3 separate regions of the Homo sapiens genome follow, and all the other regions are linked to region 3. The links come from fine-mapping of genetic effects on gene expression. A gene starts in region 3. Each other region holds a variant in brackets. All regions are shown on one strand. Distances are between the middles of the regions. Region 1 overlaps LRRFIP1 (LRR binding FLII interacting protein 1). Region 2 overlaps LRRFIP1 (LRR binding FLII interacting protein 1). Region 3 holds the start of LRRFIP1 (LRR binding FLII interacting protein 1).

Region 1 (10,015 bases), 53 kb after region 3:
TGTATTTCCTTAGGGCCTTAGGTGTTGTTTATTTTTGCAGAGATATAATTGTCATAATCTTTGTCATAAGCATTTCCAATTCTACTTCATACTTGTCTTAAACACTATTTTTATAGCTGGACAGGATGCTGTAAAGCAGTAGGTTGACCTGGCCCTTTTCTTATAATGTAAAACTTTGACCATAATTTTATTGTGATAAAATATTTCTAAGATTTACCATTTTAACCATTTTTAGGTGTAAAGTTCAGTGGTTTTAAGTGCGCTAGTGTGTAGCCATCACCATCATCCACTTCCAAAACTTTTTCATCTTCCCAAACTGAAATTCTGTACACATTAAACACTGACTCCCCAAATTCACAGAGCTGAAGGTGGAGTGGGCATTGCTTTCCCCAGCCCTTGGCAACTCCCATGCAACTTTCTGTCTCCATGAATTTGATTAACGTAAATTTTTACTACTGAGCTTCGCTTTTCCAATAAAAGTTCAAGGTACATAGTTTAAATGTACATACTTTAATGCAAGCAGTATTGCATGACACCAGCCTGCCTTCTTTCGTCCTTTTTAAAAAATTAGACCAGAAACTGTTGTTGAATCCCATGTTGCCGGTCCTGATGGTTATCTTTCTAGTGAGACCCGAAAATTCACGTGGGGACATGACAGCTTTCCATTTTCATGAATTGCAAATGTGGAGGGCTCATGGTAGGGAGATGGTTTTATTTTTGTGGGTTTTGTTTCGTTTTGTTTTTTGAGACAGAGACTCGCTCTGTCACACAGGCTGGAGTTCAGTGACACGATCTCGGCTCATTGCAACCTCCGCCTCTCCGGTTCAAGGGATTCCCGTGCCTCAGCCTCCTGAGTAGCTGGAATTATAGATGGGCAACATACCTGGCTAATTTTTGTATTTTTAGTAGAGATTGGGTTTCACCCTGTTGGCCAGGCTGGTCTCAAACTCCTGGCCTCAAGTGATCTGCCCATCTCAGCCTCCCAAAGTGCTGGGATTACAGGCGTGAGCCACAGTGCCCGGCCCAGGAGATGGTTTTAAAACAGAGATGTGCCCTGGTTGCCTTCTCTGAAAGTTTCTCTCCACACAGATCTCCTGACCTTTGGTGTGGCTGATTTCACGTGGAGTCTGTTGGATTCGCACCATCTGGCTCCTGTTTTCTGGGGAAACTCTGCGCTGGCTTTCGTCTTCCTCCTTTTGTGATTACATAAACAAAAGGGTAAATTGTTTTCTTAAACGTTAGTTTTAAATTGTGCTAAAATACACATAACAAAGTTTGCCATCTTAACTATTTTTAAGTGTACATTTCAGTGACATCAAGTATACTCACCCTCTTGTGCAGCCAGCACCACCAGCCATCCCCAGAACTTCTTCATCTTGCAGAACTGAAACTCTGCCCCCATTAAACGCTGACTCCCCATTCTCTTCTCCATCCAGCCCTGGCACCCATCATTCTACTTTGTCTTGATGAATAGTATGAGGTACCTCATCTAGTTGGAATCATACAGCATTTGTCCTTTTGTGACTAGCTGATTTCACTTAGCATGATGTCCTCAAGGTTTTCTCACATTTTAGCAGATGACAGCATTTCCTTCCTTTTTAATTCTGAGTTAAATTCCACTATGTATCTATACTACATTGTGTTTCTCCATTCAGCCATCAGTGGACACTTGGGTTGCTTCTACCTACAAAAGACCAAATTATTTTGTCCATTTAATATAAGTTATTTGAAGGCCAGGCACAGTAGCTCATATCTATAACCCTAGCACTTTGAGAGGTCAAGGCAGGAGGATCGCTTAAGGCCAGGGGTTTGAGACCAGCCTAGGCAACATAGCAAGAATCCAATCTCTACCCAAAAAACTAAAAACTACATAATTAATAAAATGTGAATTATTTGAAGTTTCAGTGCAGATCCCTTCTTATCACTGTATTATCTGATATTATCGAGCCACCATGAAACCTCTAGCACAGCCTACCTGTGGTACCGGGAGGCCACCCTCCCAGCCACATCGGGGTCTGCCTGATTTCTGCTTTCCTCACTGCCTGGGTCCCTCTGCCTTCCCCCAGAGACGAAGATGCTGCAAGTTAGACTTGGAGCTCTAATATTGTATTCTAAATGTAGGGCATATATTTTAAATAATCGTAGAGTGTTAGAGCTAAAAAGGTTTAATATGCTTTATATTAAAAACATATTTATCTTGTTAATACTCTGAGTCCATTGCGTCACCTCGGGCGGACCATTTCCCCTTTTTCTAAAACCTACACCATGGGAGGGTCTCTTTGCCAAAAAGGAGAAGTTCATGAGCTTCCATTGCCTAATATCATTCTTTGGAGGCACAGTCATAGCTCCTTATCTGGCTCTCGAAGTTCAAGTCCAGCTGTCTAGATCATAACTTTCAACTAGGAAATCACCGGGTGCCTTAAAAAAATAACCAGCGCAAAGTTCAGGCCTCTTGTTCTAGAAAAGTAGTAAGGTTACTCCTACTAGAGCCACGGGATGTAGAATTCCAGTTACTGTTGGGGTTGTGTGTGTTTTAACAGGCACACCTCTTTCCCTGCAGCAGGGGGTACACAGCAGGCTGTGCAGAGTAGGGCAAGGTAGAAGCCCTGGGGTATGCAGGAAGGTGGGTGGGGAGGGGCTGGTGTGTCAGGGACAAATGTCAGCTCCCACATCCCTTGGTAAAGTGTGACTGGGTACATCAGATTTAGATTAAATTATCCTGAAACTATTTTTTTTTCTTTTTTTGAGACAGAGTCTCACTCTGTCACCCAGGCTGGAATGCAGTGGAGTGAGGTCAGCTCACTGCAACTTCTGCTTCCCAGGTTCAAGCAATTCTCCTGCCTCAGCCTCCTGAGTAGCTGGGATTATAGGCACCTGCCACCAAGCCCAGCTAATTTTTGGATTTTTTTAGTAGAGACAAGGTTTCACCATGCTGGCCAGGCTGGTCTCAAACTCCTGACCTCAAGTGATCTGCCTGCCGTAGCCTCCAAAAGTGCTGGGATTACAGGTGTGAGCCACAGCACCCCGCCCCTCAAACTATTTTGTAGCTTGCATTATATAGATCAAACACCTTCATTGCACTTACATCTCTAGTATTGTATTTACTTAAATAATGATTATCAATAGCAACTCATTTAATCCTTATAAACCCTGGGAACTGGGTACCATTATCCCTCCCATTTTACAGATGAGGAAACTGAAACACAAAGAGAGGATATGTAACTTGCCCAGCGCTGAAGACTCCCACCAGGCACAGCGCGCCTAGAATCTGTGCTCCCTGTCACCACAGTAGACAATTGTACTCCAGCATCAACAATGAAAATCACTTTTCACTGACTTAAGTATTATTCCTTCTCCAAGTTGATCTTCCACTGGTCTAACTTAGATTCTAGCCTTTAGGCAAGAGTATCTTGTTATGAGACGTGTAATTTGTTTCCTTTCAGGTGCCTTGCAACACAACTCTGTTTATCTCATAAGCAGTTTTAAATGCTATTTAAATTCTGACAAGGCTGAGTCCTGTACTGTGTGATTACAGAGCAAGCACTAACTCACAAAGCTACTGTGTCCTGATTATTTCTCTAATTGTAGAGTAATTTAAGGAAGAAGGAATATATCAGCAATAACCGTAAAATGATGATGATAATGGCAGTTCTGATGTTCATACCCAACAAAGAAATCAGCAATATAACTACTGAAAGGGTGTAGATAAAATTTGTAAATACTTGCGGATTATGTGTATGTCTAATCCAAAAAGTCAGTCTCAAACTGAGAGTTCAGTAAGATAGTTTGTAATAACAGAAACAAAAAACCAAAGCATTCCTATATCCTACCGTAATGATTTTTTTTTGAGACGGTGTATCGCTCTTGTTGCCCAGGCTAGAGTGCAATGGCATGATCTCGGCTCACTGCAACCTCTGCCAACTGAGTTCAAGTGATTCTCCTGCCTCAGCCTCCCGAGTAGCTGGGATTGCAGGTATGCACCACCACGCCCAGCTAATTTTGTATTTTTAGTAGAGACAGGGTTTCACCATGTTGGTCAGGCTGGTCTCAAACTCCTGACCTCGGGTGATCCACCCGCCTCGGCCTCCCAAAGTGCTGGGATTACAGGCATGAGCCACCGCGCCCAGCCTGATTTTTTAAATAATGGAAAAAATGATAAAATCCCACTCAATGTTGCATGTAGGAATAAAGAAAAATGCAGGGCCTATATGAAGACCATAATAATTTACTGAAGGACATAGTCAGTTGAAAAATGCAGAGAGCAATACCTTGTCTCTGAACAAGAAAACTCCACATTAAAAAGACACGGATCCATCCCCAAATAAATGATAAATACAGTTGGCCCTTTGTGTCTGTGGGTTCCACATTCATGGATTCAACCCATCTCAAATCAAAAATATTTGGGAAAAAAAAAGGCTGGGTGCAGTGGCTGGCCAGGCACAGTGGCTCAGGCCTGCAATCCCAGCACTTGGGAAGGCCAAGATGGGAGGGTCGCTTGAGGCCAGGAGTTCAAGACCAGCCTGGTCAACACAGTGAGGCCCCATTGCAATAAATAAATAAGAAAATATTTGGAAAAAAAATGGATGGTTGCCTCTGTACTGAACATGTACAGACGTTTTTCTTGTCATTATTCTCTAAACAATACAGTCTAACAACTATTTACATAGCATTTACATTGTATTAGGTATGAACAGGAACCTAGAGATGATTCAAGTACACAGGAGGATATGCACAGGTTATGTGCAAATACTCCACCATTTATGCTCAGAGACTTGAGCATCTCCAATTTTGGTATCCCAGTGGTTGGAAGGGGTCCTAGAACCAATGCCCCTTGAATACCGAGGGACAACTGCATAATGCATTTCAAATAAAATCTCAGTTTAGAGGGGAAGGTTGGTTGAAAGCTTAACAAATAGACTCTAGGCCAGCGTGGTGACACATGCCTGTAATCCCAGCGCTTTGGGAGATTGAGGTGGGCCCATCACTTGAGCCCAGGAGTTGGAGACCAACCTGGGCAACATGGTGAAACCCCATCTCTATAAAAATACAAAAATTAGCCAGGCAAGGTGGCACAGGCCTGTGGTCCCAGCTACTCCAGAGGCTGAGATGGGAGGATCACTTGAGCCCAAGAGGTGGAGGCTGTAGTGAGCCATGATCACGCCACTGCACTCCAGGCTGGGTAGCACAGTGAGACCCTGTGTCAAAAACAACAACAACAATGACAAAAAGAAAAAAAACAAATAGACTCCTGAGTTAATC[T/C]GGAAGAATAAATGGAGAGGCTGGCCAAGAAATTTTTGAAAAAACATAACAGGGGTAGTTTTCAACTTTTTTGTAGCCCACAGCTTCTTTATTCAAACACAATCTCACCTCCCTGTTCAAATACTTTCAGTGGGTCCTTTACTGCTTCCTGAATAAAGTCCAAGTTCCTTAACCTGCGTACTGTAAAAAGAGCATTCTGACAATATCCAAGGGTGTTCAAAAAGCAATGTTTACAACTCCCACAGTTCTACCACTTCGGCAGAGCAGCCCTGTGTTTATTCTGCATGTCCTTCTGGTCTTTGCATGCCTATGTCTTTTACACAGTCCTATTCTTTTTTTTCTTTTTTGAGATGGAGTCTCGTTCTGTGACCCAGGCTGGAGTACAGTGGTGTGATCTTGGCTCACTGCAACCTCCGCCTCCTGGGTTCAAGCGATTCTCCCACCTCTGCCTCCTGAGTAGCTGGCATTACAGGCCCATGCTACCATGCCTGTCTAATTTTTGCATTTTTAGTAGAGACGGGGTTTCACCACATTGGCCAGGCTGATCTTGAACTAGTGACCGCAGGTGATCTGCCTGCCTCAGCCTCCCAAAGTACTGGGATTACAGGTGTGAGCCACCGTGCCCGGCCGCAGTCCTATTCTTTTTTTTTTTTTTTTTTTGAGACGGAGTCTCGCTCTGTCGCCCAGGCTGGAGTGCAGTGGCGGGATCTCGGCTCACTGCAAGCTCCGCCTCCCGGGTTCACGCCATTCTCCTGCCTCAGCCTCCCAAGTAGCTGGGACTACAGGCGCCCGCCACTACGCCCGGCTAATTTTTTGTATTTTTAGTAGAGACGGGGTTTCACCGTTTTAGCTGGGATGGTCTCGATCTCCTGACCTCGTGATCCGCCCGCCTCGGCCTCCCAAAGTCCTATTCTTAATTGTGTTCATCTGAGGACTAAGAACTCCACAAGCTTGGCTTTGGGAATAGCAGTAAAGCAACAACACAGTGCTGGGCTCGAAGACGGACAGCTGCCTGAAAGACGGCAGAAGCTCCCTGAGTGTGCCAAAAGCACTGATGAAGTTTTAAACCTAGTCCAAGCTAACTGAGTGATGCTAGACCTTCCCGCAACTTCTCTAACCTGGATGTAAATTGTAATTCTAGAGCCCCTTGTTTTGCGGGAAAAAAATAATCTGTGTATGGTCAAATAGCAGATGGAATGAGCTGCCAGACGGAATCTTTTGCCAGTGCAACGGAACAAAGTACTTGTTCATGCCAGGCTCAGGTCCCCTGTTACTTGCAGTCCTCCGGGCAGTCCTGTCTGCTGGCTGTCTCTCTCCCTGCTTTACGTAGGAAGCTGGAAGAGGTCAGGGGATTTCCTTGAAATTACAGGCTAGTGAATGGCAGAACAGGAGCTCGAGCCTGATTATCTGCTAAACCTCTGCTTTGGAGCTTTGAGGCCTTCTGCACAGGTCACTTGCATTCTCTGTGTAGGGGTGCAGGGTTGTTTTCTCTCCCATCGGCTTACTCTTGGATTGGGCCTTCCCAGAGGTGCCGAGAAGCAAAACCCAGTTCTTTGATCTTCTCACTTCAGCTGTTCTTTCTTCCAGCCAACTTCCAGGATTACATCCCTTGGTGTGACCACACCACATCTGAAATCTCAACTCCCCACTTCCCACCCAGTGACCTGCACCTCCTGTCTTTCAATGCTCCTGGCGCTGACTTTCTTGCCGTCCCTGACAAGCAGCCCTGCCTTCAAGTTCTCACTGGATGAAAGAAGAAGGCAACAGATGTTAGATGCCGTGTGCACATATTCCCATCTTGACCATTCTTTCTGTGCATGCTTTGCTGTGGAACTGTTGGGGCCCCATCCAGCTGTATAAGCTGAGACATGAATGTGCTTCCACAGTGTGGGCACCTCGGATGCAGGTACAGGCCCCTCTAGATCCAGGGCCACTTGGCAATGTCTGAGATATTTTTGGTTGTAACAGCTGGGGTGGAGAGCGCTGCCAGCATCTGGTGGGTGGAGCCAGGAACGCGGCTAGCCATCCTGCAATGCACAGGACAGCCGCCCACGACAAGGAACTGTGCAACCCCAAACGTCAGGGGACCCTGCTCTTTATCAATCCTAGGGTTTCCCAAAAAGCCCGACAGCACATTTGATACAGATGCCACCAACGGGGTGGAGACAAGGGGCGAGGGCTTCAGTGGAATCTCAGCAACTAAAATCAAGCCGACGGTCAGGTCAGAGAAGCATTTGGAAAGCCTCCAGTGCGTTTAGGGGACCACGCCCTCTCATCATGCCAAGGCAGCTGCCCAGTGAGGTACAGGGTATAAAGGTGACGTGGTCAGGAGTGGCTATTTGATCTCCAGTTATTCCAGAATTTCCACTCTCGTGCCAAGCATGTCTCTCCAAATGGCTGCTCTCTGGCGTTCCTCACACTCCCCCTGAAGTTCATCTAAGATCTTCATTCTTCAAAGGTGAGGCTTGTATGTTCTATGTCCAAGTCTTCTCTAAAGATATCCAATTTGTACACATGGAGAACATTTTTTGTACTCGAATAGTTGATGACTTTGCTTTGAGCTATCTCTCAAGGGCCAAAGTGCAAAAGGGCAAACCCTTCTATTAGAGTGTGGGTCTATGTTTTTAGTGTTATGCCGAAGTGTGTTTTAGCCTTTATTTTCCTTTATGGAAATTCATTTTCTTGGAAAGATCATTTTGGGGATGCTGTTTTAGGATTTCTGTACCTTCAGCTGGAAGGATGCTCACCGTTCCTGATGTTCATGTCTGCCCTTCAGTCAGGGAGCCTGGAAGCCAAGTTGCTTAGTGGCAGTGCTTTACTTTTAAGCCTTCGAATACATCTTGAGTACCTTAAACTTCTCTGTATGCTATGGGTACTGTTTAAATTCAGATTATGGAGTCCTATTCTCCCCACACTTCTTTTTTTTGTGAATGACATTTATCAATGACATTTGTAGCGTGGTGGATTCTGAAGTTTTCAGCTAGTAGCGTAAAGATTTATTTCATGGCTCTGACTGTCAGGAATATTCTCTTTTCTAGAATGTTAAACTCATAGGCAGGATTACTGAGGCAAAGCCACATAAATGAGGGAATCTCTGGAAAAAATACATTGCTTTTATTTTGTACTAAAATTGCCATTTTTTTTTTTTTTTTGGCCAAGTATAGTGGCTCACACCTGTAATCCCAGCACTTTGGGAGGCCGAGGCGGGTAGATCTCTCGAGGCCAGGAATTCAAGACCAGCCTGGCCAACATGGTGAAACCCCATCTCTATTAAAAATACAAAAAAAAAGTAGTTGGGTGTGGTGGCACACACCTGTAGTCCCAGCTACTTGGGAGGCTGAAGCAGGAGAATCACTTGAACCCAGGAGGCGGAGGCTGCAGTGAGCCGAGATCACACCACTGCACACCAGCCTAGGCTACAGAGCAAGACTATCTCAAAAAAAACAAATTGCCATTTTCTATTCCTAAGTATATATTGAAGCATTTGATTTATTTCTTCTCAGTGGGGTATACTGTTAGCTGGTGAATGCAGTTGTTGAGGATGAAGCTTATTTCCCCATGTCAGCATCTATTCTGAACATTTTAAATGAACTATTCTGAGAGCATGTATAGATTTTTTTTTTCTTCACAGGAGAGCTGCCTTAGGAGGACTTTTCAGAGTTTGTGCCTGTAAGACTGAGAAATACATAATGGATTTTAGCTGTCGTGTTTTTAGAAGGTAATTGGTAGATATTTGCAGTGCATTGTCTTCATGAAAAACAAAATTGGGCCTGGTGCGGTGGCTCAGACCTGTAATTCCAACACTTTGGGAGGCCAAGGTTAGTGGATTGCTTGAGCCCAGGAGTTCAAGATCACCCTGGGCAACATGCTGAAACCCTGTCTCTGAAAAAAAAAAAAAAATTAGCCAGGCGTGGTGGTGCACACCTGCAGGCCTAGCTACTTGGGAGGCTGAGTTGGGAGGATAGCTTGAGACAAGGTTGCAGTGAGCCAAGGTTGTATGTAGTGAGCCAAGATTGTGCCATTGCACTCCAACCTGACACTCAACAGTGTGAGACCTTGTCTCCCTACCCTCCCCCCCCCACACAAAAAAACCCCAAAAATCAGAAGTGGTTTTCTTAGAGATGCTTTACTGGAGGTGTTTGTGGCCATTTCCTTGGCTACTGTGTATAGAGGAGGTTACTGTGGTCACTCTGGTATGGACTTAAAAAGCATCAATTCTGTGGAACACACTGGGAAAGCGGATACATTTAGGATTGCTATAGACTTATTCCTAGACACTTTTTGAGATGAGTTTAATTCCAGAGTAAAATACATTAGAAATTATTTTAAGTATGCCTCAGAGTGTATCACAAAACAACATTTAATGGTGTAATGTAACGCCATGGAAGGGCTCTGAGCTCAGGTACAGTGCACCTTGACTGGGACACATACAGCTCTGAGGCAGGTCCTTCAATATTGGGTCCTCCTGCTCCTTATCCTCCCTCAACTCTGCCATCCACTCTTCCTGCACAGGAAGCTCTGCATCTAGTTATCTGCCCTCTCCTGGCCACTTTGGTGTCCTCATTCCCATGGAGCTCACAATCGGATCAAATCCTGAGTCAGTACAAGATGCCAGTGCCTGCAGCTCCCCTCCCCGCTCCCCACACCCAGCCTTTGGTCGGCAGCCCCTCAGGCCTTGCCCCACCCACTCCATCTTTTCTCACTGTCCTTTCAGCCTCCAGACAGGCTCACATCTCTTCCATCCTTAAAAACCGAC
Region 2 (10,015 bases), 130 kb after region 3:
TTACGAAACAGTCCCTCTCATTGGTGAACATTCCTATTCTTTGGTGATCTTGTATTTGTTTGGGGAGGTGTGGTAGACAGAATAATGGTCCCCCGAAGTTGCCTACATCCAGATCCCTGGAAACTGTAAATATGATGCCTTACATGGTTAAAGGGCCCCTGCAGTTGTGATGAGAGACCTTGAGAGAAGGGATTATCCTGGATTATTTGATGGAACAAGCATCCTTCTAAGAGGAAGGCAACTCAAAGGCAGAAGTAGAAGATGTGACACAGGAAGCTGAGGTTGGAGCGATGCGAGAGAGGGGCCATGAGCCAAGGAAAGCAGCTCAGTCTTAGAAGCTGAAAAAGGCAGGGAAACAGATTCTCCCTAGAGCCTTCCAGAAAGGCTTGATTTTAGCCCATAAGACTCATTTTGGACTTCTGACCTCTAGAATTGCAAGAGAATAAATTTGTGTTTTAAGCTGCTGAATTTATGACGATTCATTACAATGGCAATAAGAAACTAATACAGGGTTGGTTTTTAATTTTTTGACTTAATCGGTTCTTTAACTGCTGCCTTGAAGTGAGAATTTCACCCAAAGCAGGTTTTCTTCCTGCACTTCTTGAAGCCGGAAGTAGGACAAGGAAAAAAATCCTAGAATGCTGACAATGAGTTCAGGGTTGATGAGGTGAAAGAGTGCTTGCGGCCTCACTCACTGTCCCAGCTCTCAGGTTCTCTCTCGGGCTGGGGTTTTTCTTCCTCTTTAACCCTTTATCTGCTTTCTGTCTGTTCCTTTCCTCAGGAAATCCGACAGCTACAGCAGAAACAGGCGAGTTCTATCAGGGAGATTTCTGATCTTCAGGAAACAATAGAGTGGAAAGACAAAAAGATAGGGGTAGGATTCCCAAGTCTTGAAAATCTACTCAAATGGGCAGCCTGCTTAGCAAATAGAGTTTTTTCAGAGTCTTTAGTTTGCAAAACCGCTTGTCTGAGTATGCATGCAACTCCCACGTGACACAAAGTCGTATTAATTTATTTAATTTTATTAAGTAGTGAATACACTAACTTATCCAAATTGATATGAACTTGGATTGTGACACGGACTCTCCATGGAGGGTCTTGTGAATGCGTAGCTGTGCGCTCTGCCTGCCCCGTGGCTGGGCCGGGCCGGTGGTTGTTGAAACAGCTGGAGTGAGGAGGACACTCTGAGGAGGTCTGATGTGTGCAAGTCCAGACGTCTTGGGATTATCTGCCTGGTGGTGCTTTGAGAAAAAAAATCTAAGCACCACCAGGCAGATATCCCCACTTTGAAATCTTCCCCAGGGAAGGTCTCCACATACCCTTCTCCCTCCACAAGAAGAAAAGAGGCAGTTCTACACTTAGAATTGAAGGATAGGGGGAACAGAACCCCACAAAGTAGTTGTCATGATTGGTAACAACAAATGGTTTCCCCAAAATGGTGATTCCTACACATAGCTCTAATAAAGACGTCGAGATACCTGCACAAACCATCGGCACGTTGACTCAAGCCACACTGTGTTTCCACTGTCACGCTCATCAGCACTTAGGAGTGTGTGTGTGTGTGTGTGTGTCTGCATGCACGCACACTTTAGGACCACTTCATTTATCTGAGATGATGGATACCAAGAATCAGTGTATAAAAATAGTCTAAATGGCTACAACAGCCGTCCTGGGAGGTGCTTAAGCAATCCCTTTTCTTTACTGACCCCTCATTCAAGTGGAGACTTTGCGTAACTCTAACGCAGCTGTGAACACGCAGACAAAGCTAGAAAGTGATGCAAATATAGTAACCTCTGGGGCCCCGTGCTGTGTCCGTGTGCTTCAAGATGCGCATGTCTTTCATGGAGTATGAACAGTAACATTTCTTGGATTATATATACTAAGCGAAAAGCTTAATACTTGGATTTTGTTAGTATCTTTAGGCAGAGTCTCTTTAATGTCTAGAGTCCACTAGTGTTTTAGATGGTAGAAGCCTCCTTCTGGTTCCTGCTTCTGAAGTAACTTGCTCATCTGTGCAAATCTTCTTCTTTCTCTTGGCTCTGCTGCACACTCAGGCATTAGAGAGGCAGAAAGAGTTCTTTGATTCCGTAAGGAGTGAACGGGATGATCTTAGAGAAGAAGTAGTCATGCTGAAAGAGGAATTAAAGGTATGAAGCCAAACTACAGTTTTATTTAAAAAAAAAGAAAAAAAATCCAGGTGACAACAGCAAATTTTGGGATGCTGTGAATATGTGTGTACATAATTCATTTTATGTCATTTAGTTCTGTTAATAATTCATATATTGGGTTAACTGACAGCGATGAGATGTAAAATAAATGTAGGTTCAGTGGGTGGTGCCCAAGGCCTTTTGATGTTAATAAACATAGCCAATCTTGAATGCAAGAATTTTTTGATACATTATCTAAATTTTTCTCATACTCACTAGTAAATTCTCCAGGATATTACTCAGACTTAGAGAATTAATTTGCCTCTTTATATTAAAACCCCCAATTTAAGGACTTCTCTAGAGGAACAGTGACTTGGGTAAGTGGTTTGGGCAAGGATCCCGCTAATTAGACTTTGAGACCTACTAGATTACAGGTGGAAGACGGTTCCCTGTCCTTGGTGGGCCACGCCAAGGCGTCTTCAGCCGCTGCTTGACACAGGTGAAGCGCCAGTGGCAGCACTCTGGGTGGGGGGGTTCCTGAACCGTCACCATCTGCTGCTTGGCCTCCAGGGTCAAAGCCAGAGCAGTGAGCCAGCCAGCTACAGGCTTAGAGCTAAGATTCGTAATTCTGCTCCTTGAAGAGGCGATCAGTTCAGGGGAGTTCCTCACACACAAGGGAGAGAGAGCCACAGGCGGCAGGAGGGCATGGGTGAGTGATGTCTGCAGTTGGGAAGTGCTGCTGTTTTCAGTGAATTCTGTTTCTTTTGAATATACTGAACATTCTAGCCACCTCTGAATTCCTTCTTTAACATAAGTTTCGTGTGTCTCTTTCAGAACATGTATATATTTCTTTCTTTATCTGGTTTCTCTTTTTAAAGAATGCAATCAGGGTTTTGAAATGAAAGGTCACTTGGCAGTGACTTGCTTACTGCTCCACTTGGGGGCAGCCCACAGGCCACTACCTGTAGTTAAAAAGGATGCCTGGTGGAAGTAGCTTGTCACCAGCAAATGAAAGCATGGATTGGAACATCTGAGAAAGAAGTAGCCTTTGGAGGACGATATCCCAGATTTGTGTGTGTTGACCGAATATTTACGAGTGCTGCACCCTAGCATTTCTCTTGTCTCTGTGGAGTTACCCTGTACTTCAGGAAAAAATGGTTTTCTTTTTTATTATTGTATTAAAACAGAGTTTAACCTAATATCACTGAGTAAATATTACGATGAGCCTATTTTTGTTCCCAGAAACATGGAATAATCCTAAATTCAGAAATAGCTACCAATGGAGAGACTTCCGACACCCTCAATAATGTTGGATACCAAGGTCCTACCAAGATGACAAAAGAAGAGTTAAATGCCCTCAAGTCGACAGGGGATGGGACCCTAGGTAAGTATTTGCTTTCCTTCGGCTCCTCACACCTTTCCACTCAGCATTGGTTCACCCTCCATGCACTGCTGGGGTTGGAGCCACCGTCGCTGATGGGTTAACAGTCACCAGCATGCCATTTGTTTCATCACTTCATGGTAATTTCCTTGCCCACCCGGTGTGGTCACCCACGTGTTGTCTGGCATGCATCTCTGTGTAGTGCACCATCAATGGCTCAAGTGAACCTTTTCTTTTGCTGCTCAAAGCTACCAAGCAAGACTGTGAAGGCAAAAGGAAAACAGTCTCAAAATTAAGTAACAATGTGGAGAGTACTATTTGGTTTTCCTCAGACACATATATATCTGTACCTATAAAGTGTGGCTTTTTAAACCGATTCTATGACAGAATTATCAAAAGATCAGAATGGTTGAGGCCGTCAAGTCAGTTGGCCATATTTGCAAGCCAACATCGACATCCTGGGCAGCATTCAGCGCTTTGAGGGTACGGGGTGCCTGTGGACAGCAGGTCCGTCTGTGTTGCCTTTTTCAAGCCACCGCTCGAGGTGGGCAGGCGGCCGTGGTAGTGGGTGTGGCGGTGCTGAGAGTCTGAGTATGCCCACCTTTGTCAGAGGGGATCCTCCTTTGTATGCCACGTGTTTGCTTCTGAAAGAATATAAAACTGGGGAATCCAGTAGATCAGAGGAATATTTTATACCATTTTCAATGATCTGATTTGTCATAATTTGTCATAAGAGTTGGCTTTGGGAGAAACCTTCAGATTCTGGCGTGCAGCCTGAAGTTGCAGCGTGCAAGTGAGGCCTCATCTGTCACTGGTCACCCTCTGCGTTCCAGTGTTTTACAAAGAGGCTGGAATAAGGTCAGGGTCCGTGACTTTTCATTTTAATGTAGAAGCTTTCATCTTATTTCTTTTTATTTATGGAAATGTAGACACCTCCAGGCCCCATCTTCTCAGGCCTCGCATTCCAGGGAGGTACCTCATTCATTATCTTTATGACTATTAAAGAAACACAGCTCTTTTCAATTGTGTAAAAAAAGTTGTGGCCTAGTGCAGTGGCTCACACTTCTAATCCCAGCGCTGCGGGTGGCCAAGGCTGGAGGATCACTTAAGACCAGGAATTCCAGGCCAGCCTGGCAACCTAGCAAGATTCCGTCTCTAGATAGGTATGTAGTATCTATATACCGTTGTTGAGAAAAGATAAATTAATCAATTTCCATCATACCTTTATATGAGCTACCCGAACAGCTAGGAATCTGATTACGCTGCTCTTACTCAAATACACATTTTATAAATCTTTGATAACCATTGTGAAATGTTGTAAGAACCAGAAATGTCAGTTTTGAAAGTGGCCTTCAAATGACTTTTGATCACATATTCCTTCAGCAAAGAATTGTAGGATCCAATATGTATGTTTATTTTAAATCTACATATGTATACTATTTCATTAATATAAAATGTACGTTATAAAATATATGCAAAGATATGCAAAGAAGTTTTAGAGTAAAACTCTAAATAGAATTCCTAATATTTCCCCCATTTTCCCTGGGATATGGGCACCCCACCATGGAGATCACTGGGCTATAAAATTATCTAGCTTTGACTTTCAGTAACATAGTACCATATCTAATCTGCTGGGGTTTTGTTTGGAGAGTCCAAAAATTCCAAAACAGTTTGATGTTCTTTAGACGATGAATAATTTATCATTTAATTTAGTGGTCATCTTGATCTTGAACATTTGCCTCCTGCTGGTCCTCTCTCCCTAGTCCCTTAGGGAATGGAGCAGAGGTATCAGGGCATGGACACAGGGTGTTTTCTCAGGAAAACAATAGTTGAGTGGCAGAAGATAGATTTCCTTTCATATGAGCTATTTCAAAAGCATCTTCCTTGAGACTGACCTTGAGGCTGCATTTCTAAAAGTGCACTGAATATTCTTTTTAAAAATTACTTGAAAGCTGCTTTTAGGGCTGTGTGACATGGAGTGCAGTTTGACAGCTGCAAAAGTACAAGTTGTCAAGTTGTTCATTGAGAAGTGAGAGTGGGGAATTGAACCTTCAGTCTGTTCCTAAACCCATCATTGTGGATTGTTTGGCTGCCTGATCCAGAGTTCTTTCTATTTGTTGAAACTTAACGTCACCTTTAAAAATCTGTCCACACAAGATGGCACCAGCAGCCACTCTGGCCTTTGATGTGGTGGCAGTGGCCCTCACTGACCCAAAATTTACTAATGCAACTGCTGCTTTGCCGCACAGAACTGGCAAAGGCTTGTTTCTCATGACTCTTTGATGACTCTGTCTTTAGGAATAGGGGTGGGTGGGATTTGGAACGTGTGTTTACATTCTAATGTAGATTATGTGGCCGCCACATCATGGGGTCCCTTCAATTTTCTCAATGGTCTTTTAGGAAGAGCCAGTGAAGTGGAGGTGAAAAATGAAATCGTGGCGAATGTGGGGAAAAGAGAAATCTTGCACAATACTGAGAAAGA[A/G]CAACACACAGAGGACACAGTGAAGGACTGTGTGGACATAGAGGTATTCCCTGCTGGTGAGAATACCGAGGACCAGAAATCCTCTGAAGACACTGCCCCATTCCTAGGAACCTTAGCAGGTGCTACCTATGAGGAACAGGTTCAAAGCCAAATTCTTGAGAGCAGTTCTCTCCCTGAAAACACAGTACAGGTTGAGTCAAATGAGGTCATGGGTGCACCAGATGACAGGACCAGAACTCCCCTTGAGCCATCCAACTGTTGGAGTGACTTAGATGGTGGGAACCACACAGAGAATGTGGGAGAGGCAGCAGTGACTCAGGTTGAAGAGCAGGCAGGCACAGTGGCCTCGTGTCCTTTAGGGCATAGTGATGACACAGTTTATCATGATGACAAATGTATGGTAGAGGTCCCCCAAGAGTTAGAGACAAGCACAGGGCATAGTTTAGAGAAAGAATTCACCAACCAGGAAGCAGCTGAGCCCAAGGAGGTTCCAGCGCACAGTACAGAAGTAGGTAGGGATCACAACGAAGAAGAGGGTGAAGAAACAGGATTAAGGGACGAGAAACCAATCAAGACAGAAGTTCCTGGTTCTCCAGCAGGAACTGAGGGCAACTGTCAGGAAGCGACAGGTCCAAGTACAGTAGACACTCAAAATGAACCCTTAGATATGAAAGAGCCCGATGAAGAAAAGAGTGACCAACAGGGAGAGGCATTGGACTCATCGCAGAAGAAGACAAAGAACAAGAAAAAGAAAAACAAGAAGAAAAAATCCCCAGTACCCGTAGAAACCCTTAAAGATGTTAAAAAAGAGTTAACGTATCAGAACACAGATTTAAGTGAAATTAAGGAAGAAGAGCAGGTAAAGTCTACTGACAGAAAGTCAGCAGTGGAAGCCCAAAACGAGGTGACTGAAAATCCAAAACAGAAAATTGCAGCAGAAAGCAGTGAAAATGTTGATTGTCCGGAGAATCCTAAAATTAAGTTGGATGGAAAACTTGACCAAGAAGGTGATGATGTACAAACAGCAGCTGAGGAGGTACTAGCTGATGGAGACACATTAGATTTTGAGGATGACACCGTTCAATCATCAGGCCCGAGGGCTGGTGGTGAAGAATTAGATGAAGGTGTTGCAAAAGATAATGCTAAAATAGATGGTGCCACTCAAAGCAGTCCTGCAGAACCAAAGAGCGAAGACGCAGATCGCTGCACCCTGCCCGAACATGAAAGTCCCTCACAGGACATTAGTGATGCCTGTGAAGCAGAAAGTACAGAGAGGTGTGAGATGTCAGAACATCCAAGTCAGACCGTCAGGAAAGCTTTAGACAGCAATAGCCTAGAGAACGATGACTTGTCGGCACCAGGAAGAGAGCCAGGGCACTTCAATCCAGAAAGCAGAGAAGATACCAGAGGAGGGAATGAGAAGGGCAAAAGCAAAGAAGACTGTACCATGTCCTAAGCTGAGGCAGGCGGCAGGCGCGGTGCACAGGAAGTCTCAGTGTGAAGGGGTCTTTTCTCTCCACTGCCAATGTAAGTAGAATGTTCTAAATTCATAGAGAGGCACTGTATGACAATTACCAGGTGCTCTACTGCTTTAAGTTATAGACTGTTACTTGTAGATTTCCATGTAATCATTGAGGTTATCACCCAGATTAGAAAGACATATTTGTTATCAGTGTACGTTCTAATTGAGAGCATTCCAGTAGTATCAAACAATAATGTCTACTGTTTATAGTCCACTTAATAAAAATAGAGGCATTTACTATTTGCCTTAGGCTGATAGGAATGTGGGTTTTCTTGACCAAATATATCAGCATCTAATTGAAATGACCAAATAGCATTCTTAGACTTCTGTATTATGAATATAATTGATATTTAAATTAATGTCTTGTTCACATATGTGTACTTTCATATTTGATTTTAAAATGTACATTATAACCTGTATGGTATTTTATTTAAAGGAGATAAACAGCCAAATAGCAAATAGGTCACTGAATGATAAGATTTGCACCTTAGAACAATAATCATTTTAAGGATAACAAGTAAATGTCTGAAAGCATGAGGGGCTTTATTTGCCTTTACCTCATATGAGTCTTTGATCTTGAACCGATACTTTTGGATCTCATTGTTGATATACCTGAATTTACTTTGTAAGAGATTTTAACTTCACTTCATGCTGATGATGTATCAAATTCATTTTATAGAAAGATTTAAAGTTTTTTTCTGGAAGTGATATATGTCAAATTACATTTCCTACTGCAGTATTTGAGCAGGGACAGTCATTTTTTAAATGTTTTTGGCCGGGCGTGGTGGCTCATGCCTGTAATCTCAGTACATTGGGAGGCCAAGGCAGGTGGATCACCTGAGGTCAAGAGTTCGAGGCCAGCCTGGCCAACATGGTGAAACCCTGTCTCTACTAAAAATACAAAAAATTGGCCGGGCGTGATGGTGGGCGCCTGTAATCCCAGCCACTCCAGAGGCTGAGGCAGGAGAATCGCTTGAACCTGCGAGGCAGAGATTGCAGTGAGCCAAGATCAAGCCATTGTACTCCAGCCTGGACAACAAGAGCGAAACTCTGTCTAAAAAAAAAAAAAAAAACACACACACACACAACACAATGTTTTCACGCCTGTAAACCTAGCACATTGGGAAGCCAAGGTGGGAGGATTGCTTGAGGCCAGGAGTTCAAGGCTGCAGTGAGCTATGATTGCACACTGTACTCTAGCCTGGGAGACAGAGTGAGACACTGTCTCTAAAAAAAAAAAAAAAAAAAAAAAAAGTTTTTGAACCTTAAAATACTTTGTTTGAATTTCTAATCATCATTCAAAAGAGCAGTAAAAAATGGTTACTTGTTCTTGTACAAGCTACTAATTAGACTATAGTAGGATATTTTAAAGAGCTGAATCACTTTTGGTATTTTGGTATAAATATTTTCATTTGTTATGTCCCAGTATATTCTTACTGGAAAATTCTTGTTTTGATCTGCCTGAAGAAAATATCTGTTTTCTATATAAAAAAATTTTTTAAAATAATTGTAAAGTTAGATTTAAAATTGTAAAATATAAAATCACAAAGGAATGTACCTTATGAATGTTGTTGACATTTTATGAAATTATGTGGATTCATATTACTGTTACAAGATAGAATTGAATGCAAAAAGACCAAAACCTCAATAAAATTTGAGGAAAACGTGTTATTATGTAATTGAAATAAAAACATTTTATAATTGTGCAAGCCTGTGGTTCCACTCTTTGGGCTGCTTGAAGTCTGAGTCTGACTACTGTTGTATGTAATACCACCTTTGAGTAATATCTGCTTGGGGGTTGCTGATTCCTATTGGGGTTCCGTGGAAGACCCACGCCTGATGCCCTCCCTCAGTAAGGAATGCACTTCCCTCCTGGCATCGAGCCTGGGGCTAGCATGGGCATTACTGGGAGAACTGAGACGATTGTCACGCACCATCCCCTGTGATCTGTGGTTCTGATGTGCAGCCTCAGCTGAAAACGGTCTTCACCTGTGGCTGTGCTTACCTGCGCCACTACTTACAGTGTTTTGAAGAGCAGGATGAAAACGGCAAAAACCTTGACTGTTTCTGCTCAAGTGTCCTGAAGTAGAGGATGGTGGGGATGATAAATGCTTGCTAGGAAATAAGTCCAAGGGCTCTATAGGACTTCACAGGGTTTTAGTTTATGTCTCTAACTTTAGCAAAGCTGCATTCCTATTGGAATGCATACTGGAAACAGCTCTCATTCCTACCTTTAAAGGGCTCTTGGAAAGCAGTGTGACAACCAAGGTCACTAAATGGTGAGATCATCAAGCCATTTTAAGTTCTTTCTCATGTTATTCACCAGCACCCTGCAGGACGTTGGGCACACATCACATCCCTCAGCTCAGCCATCCAGCCGTCTCAGTGATTCACCACTCATTTGCTTAATTAATAGACAGGTTTGATCACTTTGTACATGGAAGGCACTGTGCCAGTGAACAAGCAGTTGGACCCAGCCCTCC
Region 3 (10,015 bases):
TGCGAAATTCCTGGCACCCAGTAGCACTTAGTGAAGGTGAAATTTTATGACAATAACATTTAAAGCAAATAATCTCACAAACTTCAGCACTGTGACTATCACTCATCACAAGTGAACTGATGCATTTCGCACCTGCTTTTACCCTCCAGAACTGCTGCAGCAGCCGCCCTAGAGCCATTCTGCAGTTCTGATGCACAGCATGATGGAAGCATATTGCAGAAGATTATTCTGGCTTTTGTAGATAGTGGATTAAATTGGGACAGTGTAGAATGGGAATTCAGATAGCCCATGGATGGACTTCAAAATATCACCCTCTAAAATTGGACTCAAATTTCATGTTCAGATGCCCGTTTTCCCCACTGCAAGAGGAATCCAACTTTCATCAGATCCTTGCATCAATTAAACTTTCTTTACTGCAAAAAAAAAAAAAAAAAAAAAAATGAATTCCTGGTCTAGAACCCTTTTTTTTTTTTTTTTTTTTTTTGAGAGGGAGTCTCGCTCTGTCTCCCAGGCTGAGTGCAGTGGCGCAGTATCAGCTCACTGCAAGCTCTTCCTCCTGGGTTCAAGCAATTTTCCTGCCTCAGCCTCCCGAGTAGCTGGGATTACAGGCATAAGCCATGGCACCTGCCCTTAGAACCCAGATGTTTTTGATAATGGAAATGATCCGCAAGTATTTTTAAACTCCCACAAGTATTTGCATATTTATGTACAAATTATGTTCCTAGTTTATCATCATTAGTTAATAAATAAAGGCACAATATCCACTTAGAATGAAGTTAATCATTAATGATAGGAAATGTAAATTAATGTTTAAATAGTTTTGATGGTTACTAAACGTTCTTATCCTGTCTAATAACCTTATACTGAGGCCAGTGAAGACCTCCTGCCTGAACTAAGAAACAAGTCTCTCATTTTCTTGTTTATTTGTGGCTTTTGGGAATCTTTTAAATCTTTTGAAGCCATTTATCTACTCTTTGAGTTTTAGTTAAAACTAGGTTAGGCAATCCATAAATCCTTTTAACCTGGTCCACCGAAATATATCAAAATATGCAGAAAATGATGTAATGAGAGAGCACGCCACTGCCAGCCCCTGAAATGCTTTGAGTGAGTGACCGCTTGAAATAAGCTTATAGACCAAAAATTAGTAACATTGGATTTCTAATTTTTAGTTGAAGATATATATAACAGAAATTCTATATTTGCTTCCCCTACCCCATAGATTGTCTCAGACACCCTACCCTGGAGACACCAAGTCCAGAAGGTGACTTATGCTAGTAATCCACAGATGAGGGATAAGGGGGACCAGCTGCAGAGCTTGGTGGTATCAGCAAACATGCCAAAGGAGGATCAAAATGATCAGATAGAGATGAAGGAAAAGACCAGCTGGGTATTTGATCAGATTTAGTAGAGAAAGGAGAAAGGATTTCAAAATGGTTCCAAGGTTTTTACTCCAAAAAACATGAAAAAGTTACTGGAAGTGATGGTGTCCTGGGAAGGAAGAGGCATTTATTGGGGCAGGCATCATCCACTGATTTATTTTGGAAGTGCTGTGATTGAGCTACTGAAAGATGCACCTGAAAACGTCCAGCAGGACAAAGGAGACACCATTCACCTCCTGAGCAACACATAGACCCTGACCTCAGCCAGCCCCACTTCTGGGCAGAGTGCTGGCTCCAAGTTCCATGCGTGAGAGATGGCTCTCCTCTACGGGTCCTTCAGCATTCCTGGGGGGGGGCTGCAGTTCTCCTGCCCTGCTCCAGCTGTAATCCAAAGCAGGGCTTTCCATCCTCTGGGAACTGGAAGAGCAAGGCTGGAGTGCTGGTGAAAGAGGTTTGAGGTAGGCCCACGCGGATGATGCTCTCAATGGACCCAGAGTGAGTCACGTTATGGCCCACATGATGGCTCAGATGGCTCTCTGCCTGAGAAGCTCTGAGTCCTCATGCAGACTGGACGCCCCTCCGTAGCTGCTCATCAACTTCCTTTCCCAGCCAGCCCCCAGGGCTTGCCCACTGAGCTCCTGAACCAAGGCAAACTTGCGCTGGGGACGGCGCCGCTGTGTGGTTTCCCTTGCCAAGGCTTCCCTGGCTGCCTCCACTTTCTCGTGGAGGCTTCCTGAAGGTGGCATCTGTATTTTTGTGAAGGGACTTGGTACCAGGCTTGGAGATGAACATGTTAATTCTCTGGCCCTGGACATCAGATCTGTGATATAGTTTCTCAATTTCCTGCTCTGAAGTAAGCCCTGGTGGGTAGTGTCACCATCTGGAATAGGAAAAGGGCTAGATGGGAGGGGTCAGTAGTGCTGGTGGCAGAGGCCAGTCTTCTCAGTGGAAACAGGCTCATGCACTTCCACGCAGGGAGGGCCGACGGTCAAGGGTGGAGGAAAAGCCACAATTTTTCGGTGAACCCATGGATCAGCATGATGGAGTCTTGCAGGTCTTTATCTTCCTCCAGGAGGCACCCCAAGCACGGAGAAGACCCACCAAGCTGCCTGATACCTCTGTCTAGCTCCCCTCTGCCCAGACAGGAACTGCTGTTCACCATTCATTCCAGACCTGGGCCTTTGAGGACAGGAGCTGTAAGGATGATTGATCGATTGCCTGTGTGTGAAGCCCTGGAAGGGCTCTTGCCTAGAATACTGTCCCTACCCTGACAAGGTAGAGGCCATGGTCTGGATGGCGGTGGCCCCCCCATTCATATGTCAAAACCTAACCCTCAATGCAAGGTGGGGCCTGCAGGTGACCAGGTCCTGAAGCAGAGACCTCATGAACGCGATGAGTGCCCTTACACAAAAGCCTGGAGGGAGCCCGTCTTCCACCATGAGATGACACACAGAAGGCACCATCTGTGAGGAATGGGCCTCAACCAGACACTGATTCTGCTGGAGGCTTGATGCTGGACTTCCCAGCCTCCACAGCTGTGAACAATACATTTCCGTGGTTTTATAAATGACCCTGTCTAAGGCGTTCTGTTACAGCAGCACAAAGGAACTAAGACAGTGGGCACCCGTATTTCCATTTAGAGGCGGAAACTGACTCTGAAGTGAGAACCGGTCCACTCTGAGAGCACATCGCCAGGGGAAGAGGACTGTAGCCAGGAAGTTGTTATGTCATGGGGTCATGGGAGGACCCAGCAATGTTGTTTCTGATGATTTCTGAAAGGCGGCTCTTTTCTGGAAGTGGACAGATGATGGGGGAGGGGCAGGAAGCTGAATTCACCACAGTGTCCGAGAACACTGTCTACCAGCGGGAGCTGTTCAGACACACCTCTGGCCAGTCCCCACGGCAGTGAATCTCCTGTCTCTGGACAACAATCCAACAGGGAAAGTGGGGAGGAGGGTTGGGAACTGAACTCTGTTCCACAAGTTCAACCACTGCACTCCACTAAGCAACTGGCACAGCCAGTCCCTGGTGAAGGCTTAAAGATGAGGAAGATGGGGTCAGCGCCTGCCCTCCTGGCCTCAACACATCAGGATGGAGGATTTAGGTGTTAGCAAAAAGTGGCTCAAAGTTCCAATGAAGGACAGGGAGCAAAGGGAGACTTCTTTTAGAAAGGAGACGTTGGAACTTGGATATGGCTTTAGTTAAGGAGCTCCAGGCATCTCAAGTCAGCCCTGAGAGGCAGCAGCCGTGTCTGCCTCTCGGACAGCTATGCCCCAGCCTCCAGCTCAGCAGCTGGCAGGCAGCAGGTGTGGGTGCAGGAATGAGTGAACTCATGGGGACCAGCCTCGGCAAAGACGCACAGTCCCCACAGTGCCCCAGGGGCTGGGAAACAGTGAGCAGCCACCAGCAAGACCAAGGCAGTGCAAGTGGCCACGGCTCAAGGTTTCCCCCAAGGAGGACTATGTCACTTAAGGAGTATGGCCTCTGAAGTAATGTAAATATGGCCTGGAAGATTCAGTCAACACCTATTTCCTTAGTGCCTACAATGTGCAGGTGCAGTTTCTGCTCCCGGAGTTCAGTCATGAACAATGCCACAGTCAGCCCTGCCAACCCACCTGCGTCAGCTCAGGCACCCAGAGCAATGTCACCTGGATCTGCCCTCCCTCCCATGTCACTGGACTCGCTGTCTTTTCCCTGCAATGAAACCTCCAACAGCTTTCCCTGCCACTGTGGGTGGAAGGGCCCTCTTCCTCTTCCCACCTTCATACAGCTTCCAGGCCACCTCCTTAAGAATCCAAAGCAATCTGGTCACACCACTTGGTGGGAAATACACCGAAATGTTAACTGTCCTTATCACTGGGGGAAAAAAATCACAGGTGACTTCAGTACAGCCTCCTCTCCTCTACCATCACTACCCTCCCTCCCATCCTTCCCCAGGTCCAGCCACACTGAAGTTCTCCCCATACCCCAAACACACCAGTAACTTTCCCACCCGGTGCTCCTGCCGTGCCCTAGGCAGGGGCTTTTAACCCCTACCTAATCCTCCGATTTGCTTTACTTTTAAATCCACCTCTGGAGCATAGACTGTGAGCTTCAGAGAGCACAGGTAAGTTCATTACTTTTTCAACAACTAGGAGAGAGCTGCGACGCACCTGCCCCGATCCTAGAGGCTGGGGACCCACCAGAGAAGTGACAAGTCCTTGATCTCAGGGGGCAGACAGCGGGGAGAAGGATGGATGCTAGCACGGAGAACACGCGTGTAAAGACAGAAACGCACACATCCACACCATGCCGCTGTGAAGCCGGCGCCCAGGAGGCTGGCCAAGGTCACAGGAGCGGCGGTGGCGGGCGGATCCGAGCACCTCTCGGCCTGACCCCAGAGCCTAGCTCTCACCCCGGCGAGGGACTTCCACCCCGACTCACCGCGGAATGGGGAGCGCCAGGCTGAACCAAATCCTGTGCTCACCCCTCCGTGCAAACCCCTCAAGGCAACTCAGGCCTCTGAAAGCCTTCCTACCCCCCCGCTCTCCGCTCAGGTCCCCACTCAACCGGTGCCCACCGCCCTGGCGCGCGTCGCTCCGCGATTACCGGCCCGCCAAACAGTCCCCGCAAAGTCCACCCTCCGGGGCTCCCGGTCCCTCAGGTCCCGCGTGCCCGGCCCTGGGCATCCGCAGCGTCCCCGTGGTATCGGACCCCCATCGTCCCTGACACCTGGCGTCTCCGCCCCCCGCCCCCGTCCCCCGCCCCGCCGTCCCTGGCCCCTGCAGTCCCTGGCCCGCGCTGCGGACCTCCGGCTCTGGCTTCCCCCGGGTCCCCGCGGCCCCCGTCCCCCCGCGTCCCCGCGTCCCCGGCCCAGCGCCCGCTGACGCCATGACGCCGCGGCGGAGGGAGGGGCCGGGGCCGGGGCCGGGCCGGGGCGGCGCGAGCGGCTGGAGCAACGGGCCCCGCGGCAGCTGCGGGCGACGCGGTCGATGGACATGGGCACCCAGGGATCGGGGCGCAAGCGGCTCCCCAACCGGGAGCGGCTCACGGCGGAGGACGACGCGCTCAACCAGATCGCGCGGGAGGTGAGCGCTCCGGGAGGGCAGCCGGGGGGCGCCGGGCGGGCGCGGGGGCCGGACGGCTGTCAGGGTCTCTCCGGCGTCCGTCTGTCCCGCTGTGCGTCTGTGCCACTGCGCGTCCGGCTCCAGGCGGGTGGGCCGGGCAGGCGCGCGCCGGGGCGCTGATCCCCAGGCGCTGCGCCCCGGCCCCGATCTCCGAGGCCTGCGGACCCCGCACCCGTTCTCCAGCCCCGGGCCCAGCCCGCGACGCTGCGCGCCCTCCCCCACCCCGGCCACCGTCGGCCGCTGCGCCCTCGGGAGAGGAGCCGGGCGCCGCCAGCGCGCGAGGTGGCCCGGGCTGGCCGGGTGGGGGCGAGCGCCCCGCTTTGTTGTGCGGCATGGGAGGAGGCGGGGGCTTAGGCCCGACCTGGAGGCAGTGGACGGTCGCCGGAGGCCACATGGCCCTGCTGAAATGGCCGAGTCGCTCAGGTGACCATTTGTCATCCATCCATCGATGTCACTCAAGGTGCAGCTCAGAGATGAACTTGGGGATCACTGTGATTTTTCTTTCAGGACTGAGCCTGGAAACGGGTCCAGGCACACTGAAACGTCTTCATTAAAGTTTCCTGGACAGAGTTTATTGTAACTAAGATCATGTTTGGTGATGAACTTTACCTGTGACAAATTGAAGGCGCACTAGAATGGGTATTTGTACAAATGCCTTTTTTTTTTTCCTTCCGCAAGGATTCTACCTTAAGGCTAAAGAATGTACATGACATCCAGAAAGCCGTACAGGGACAGAGAGCAGCAGCTTGGGAAAAGGGGAGCCAATAGGTTGCGGCCCCAGGGGGACAAAGGAAGCTTAATTTTTGACTGTGTTCCCTTTGTACCATTTGAACTGTGTGCCAGGTGGGTGTATGAATGCAAAGAAAGTCTCTGCCTTGTAACCCGCCTTACAGGTTCTTTTCCGTGTTGGCTTTTCCACATGTGATTCTTCCCACAGGAAACACCTCCAAGCCATTTGGACTGTGGTGTCTGGCTGTATCCGTCAGATATTCTGGGGGATCTACTCTGTAACCAATCCTTAGGTGTTTGTAGTTGTAAATACCTGATTTTGCTCTTACGGACATGTGGCAGTCACTCAGTATTTGTTGACTACTGAGTGAATAAAGACTTCTGTTTTTCTCTGTATGATACAGAAAAGGGCTTTCCAGGCAAACCCTTATTCATTCCTGGAAGCCCACTGTGACCTCCAGGAGACCTTCCAGACTCAGCCCTCTCACATCGCACCAGGCCTAAGTCTCCCTGGCTCCACGGCCCTCCATGGCATGCCCGCGCCTGGCATGGCAGTCAGGATACCTTATCATTATTTGTCCACCTGTAGAAGGTGACACCCAGACAGGAAATATCTTACTTTTGTATCCCAAGAGCTCAGCACAGAGCCAGGCACATACTAGGTGTTTGTCTATGTCTGTTACATTAATTAATAAACAAAAGAAGTACAAGGCATTTAAAGGACCTTTGGCTAAATATAGACATTTGCTAAATATAGTAGCTTGAGTATAACTCCCTCCTGTGAAGACAGTCACTTATGTATGCATTTGACCACAGTGCCTTACAAGTGTTCCCTGCAAGGGCCAGAGGTGGCCAGTGAATCGCAAGCCTTGTCTTGATGTCAGTGGTTATGGGGCAGAAGAATGAGAAGAATGAAAATTTCCAGAGTTTGCCTTTTATCCACTGGTGTTTCTTTCTTCTTTTTTTTTTTTTTTTTTTTTTTTAACACAGTCTCACTCTGTTGCCCAGGCTGGAGTACAGTGGTATGATCTCGGCTCACTGCAACCTCCACCTCCCAGGCTCAAGAGATCCTCCTGCCTCAGCCTCACCAGTAGCTGGGATTACAGGCACGCACCACCACACCCGGCTAATTTTTGTATTTTTAATAGAGACGGGGTTTCACCGTGTTGGCCAGGCTGGTCTCAAACTCCTGGCCTCAAGTGATCTTCCCGCCTTGGCCTCTCAAAGTGCTGGGATTACAGGCGTAAGCCACTGCGCCCAGCCTATCTGCTGGTTTTTATAAAATAGATTGAAAAGGAAGGCAAGGGAACACTCCTTGGGTTGAGAGCCCTGAGGTCCTCCCTCCCACCGAGGGAGATGCAGTTGGAGTTACAGAGATAGACTTGTGAGTCAGAGCTGGGCTTTCAAATGACATAGTTCTTAGCCAGCTGTGCCATCCTAGGAAGGTGAGTTACTCACTCTTCTCTGGGCCTCTGTTTTCTCGTCTCTAAAATGGAGAAGAAGAAACCTCCCCTGGCTGTCAGAATTAAAGAAAGTGGGTAGCAATGTAAAGTATGTAACTAGGCGGTGGGTAAATATGAGAGCTTCTTACACGCCCCTCCCGGTAAAACCCAGCCGTAGGTGCAGCTGTTACTAGTGCTGAGTAGCACAGATTGATAGGGTTGGAGGGAGCAGGTGTGACATCTTATGTTTTAGTACAAATTAACTTCTATTTCTCAACTGTGAAAATGAAAATCACTATTCAAATGGCAAATATCTACTCCTTGAATTCATCAGGGTTCTTATAGAAATCAACAAAATCGTCTTGGGTTCAGTACTTTCTTATTCACTCATTGACTCAACAGATACAAGCCATGGTATCCAAATTCCTGTCCTGGGGAGACTGGAGAGTCAGGGAGGAACCCGGCGAGGACCTGCCTGCCCTCCAGGAGTTGGGTCAGAAAGGGGTTGACACCTGTAGATCAATAATGCTAACCGAAGACAGGAAGGGATCTGATATAAAAAGGGCGTAGACAGTGTTCTGAAGGTTTGGACATGAGAGAGAATCACAGCCGGCCAGTGGTCTCAGAAGTGGCTTCCTGGAGGAAGTGGCATTTTGAGTTCTTGAAGGCTGTATGTACCAGTCAAGATGCTTTGGCTGCTGGGACAGAAACCCTGACTGGACTGACATTGACAAGGGGAAGTATATTGGCTGGAGCACAGCAAGCCCGGAGGCAGGGCAGGATTCCCCGCCAGCCTCACCAGTGGCTCCGGCCTCTTTTTCCCACAGCACCTGCGCAGCTGGTTGGGCTGGGCCATCCTCTGTGGGTGGCCTCATCCTCAGGCTGACTTGCTTCATGGAGGCCAGCTGGCCTTGGCTTTCCCGGGCTGCCACTGTGGAGCCCACACACCGTCTCTTCTGGTGGCTCTCTCCAGAGAGCTAGCAGTATCTCCCTGGTAAACTTTCATGAGTCTGTCTGGCCACTCCTGCACCAAGCTCTTTGACAAGGACCATGGACTTAGGGGCTCAGTGCCTGTGGCAAAGGGGGGTGGGTCTACCCTGTGACCTGTCAGACTCATCCTGGGACTGGGGAGAGCCGGCCTCCCTGAAACACTTGGGAAGGTGGGGGCCTGAATGGAAACTGGGGAGGCTTCAAGGAAGTGGGAGGGAGTGGGCTGCCACTTGGGCCTGGCACCCAAGAACATGCCTTCTGGAGAGTAAGTGGAAAATTCTGGGCTGAGGTCATTGGGAAGCCTGAGTCACCTGGCAGGGACGTGGGTTCCAGTTCGCTGGAGCGAGGGGAAGAGCTAGGCTGCCCTGTGCAGGCAGGGCTTTGCACTCTTCTGGGTAGAAGCAGGACTCGTGGTGGGGGCAGCCTTTGGAGGGTGCATTTCTGCTTCTGCAGCCGGTGTCCTGCTTCCATGTGATGGTTTAAACTCTAGGCAAGCGTGTATAGTAAAGGGAGTTATTTGCAAATGCTGTATTATCGCAAGTCAATTATTTCTCACTCTCTTGTTGCAGTGGAATTCAGGCGGGATGTTATCAGGAGAAAGGTTTAGTACGCACTTGCAGAAGCTCATTAGCACCAAAGGCATGAGCTGCGCCTCCCACTTCTGGGGAGGGGTGTTTCCAACGCAGATAGATTTTCCTCTCCTACCGCATTTCACATTCTACTGGTGCATTTTGGTAGCATCCCAAACTTCTCATTCAGCACTCTGCAGCTGAGTAAAGCGATACTGGTCTCACCATGCAATTCAAAGTATTGCTCTCAAATGAAGAATGTTTTTCCCAACAGGAACAGTCATTTGCGCAGGCTGCATTAGGAACTCACCGTGGGGCCTTGAGACAGTGCGGTGAGCTTATTATCCCCTGGTGGTGCCATAGGTACCCCTTCCTCACCCAGCAGGACGGAGGCCCTCCCCCCATAACTGTTTCTGCAGCCTCCTCTCCAAGCTGGCCCCTCTGTGGCCTGCGGCCTCGGGCCCTGATCCATGGCAGGGGCACTGCTGCCCCACCCGGCTGCTTCACCGGCCCCAAGTTGACTCGTGGGCCTGCGGGTGCTGTTGGTTCAGGCCTCACAGCCACCGCCTTTCACTTGAGCCACGGCCACACAGGAGTCCAGTTGCGGAGAAGGGGTCGCACTGCCCCCAAGGAGTCCAGTTGTGGAGAAGGGGTCACACTGCCCCCAAGGAGTCCAGTTGTGGAGAAGGGGTCACACAGCCCCCAAGGACTCCAGTTGTGGAGAAGGGGTTGCATTGCCCCCAAGGCAGCCTGCAGCCATCAAGTAACCATTTTGTGAGGTCACAAAATGTCCCCCAGGC

What was found. PIP is the estimated chance that this variant, and not a neighbour inherited with it, causes the effect.
Region 1: its variant is fine-mapped to the expression of LRRFIP1 in whole blood (TOPMed, PIP 0.99).
Region 2: its variant is fine-mapped to the expression of LRRFIP1 in blood mononuclear cells (TOPMed, PIP 0.94). The same link has a PIP of 0.9 or more in whole blood.

Annotation. Positions count from the first base shown.
Region 1 is chr2:237,675,779-237,685,793 of GRCh38, forward strand. All of the region lies in intron 1 of LRRFIP1 (LRR binding FLII interacting protein 1), which reads left to right. Among named protein-coding and RNA genes, the nearest start is that of LRRFIP1, 53 kb to the left of the region's middle. The variant T/C (reference allele first, on the strand shown) is at 5,260.
Region 2 is chr2:237,756,675-237,766,689 of GRCh38, forward strand. It overlaps LRRFIP1 (LRR binding FLII interacting protein 1), which reads left to right. Exons shown (of 24, transcript NM_001137550.2): 17 at 782-874; 18 at 2,055-2,147; 19 at 3,390-3,531. Among named protein-coding and RNA genes, the nearest start is that of RBM44, 37 kb to the right of the region's middle. RefSeq lists a silencer at 5,755-5,967. The variant A/G (reference allele first, on the strand shown) is at 6,011.
Region 3 is chr2:237,622,295-237,632,309 of GRCh38, forward strand. It overlaps LRRFIP1 (LRR binding FLII interacting protein 1), which reads left to right and starts at 5,293. Exons shown (of 24, transcript NM_001137550.2): 1 at 5,293-5,446. The coding sequence starts at 5,351. RefSeq lists enhancers at 8,700-9,199, 9,202-9,763.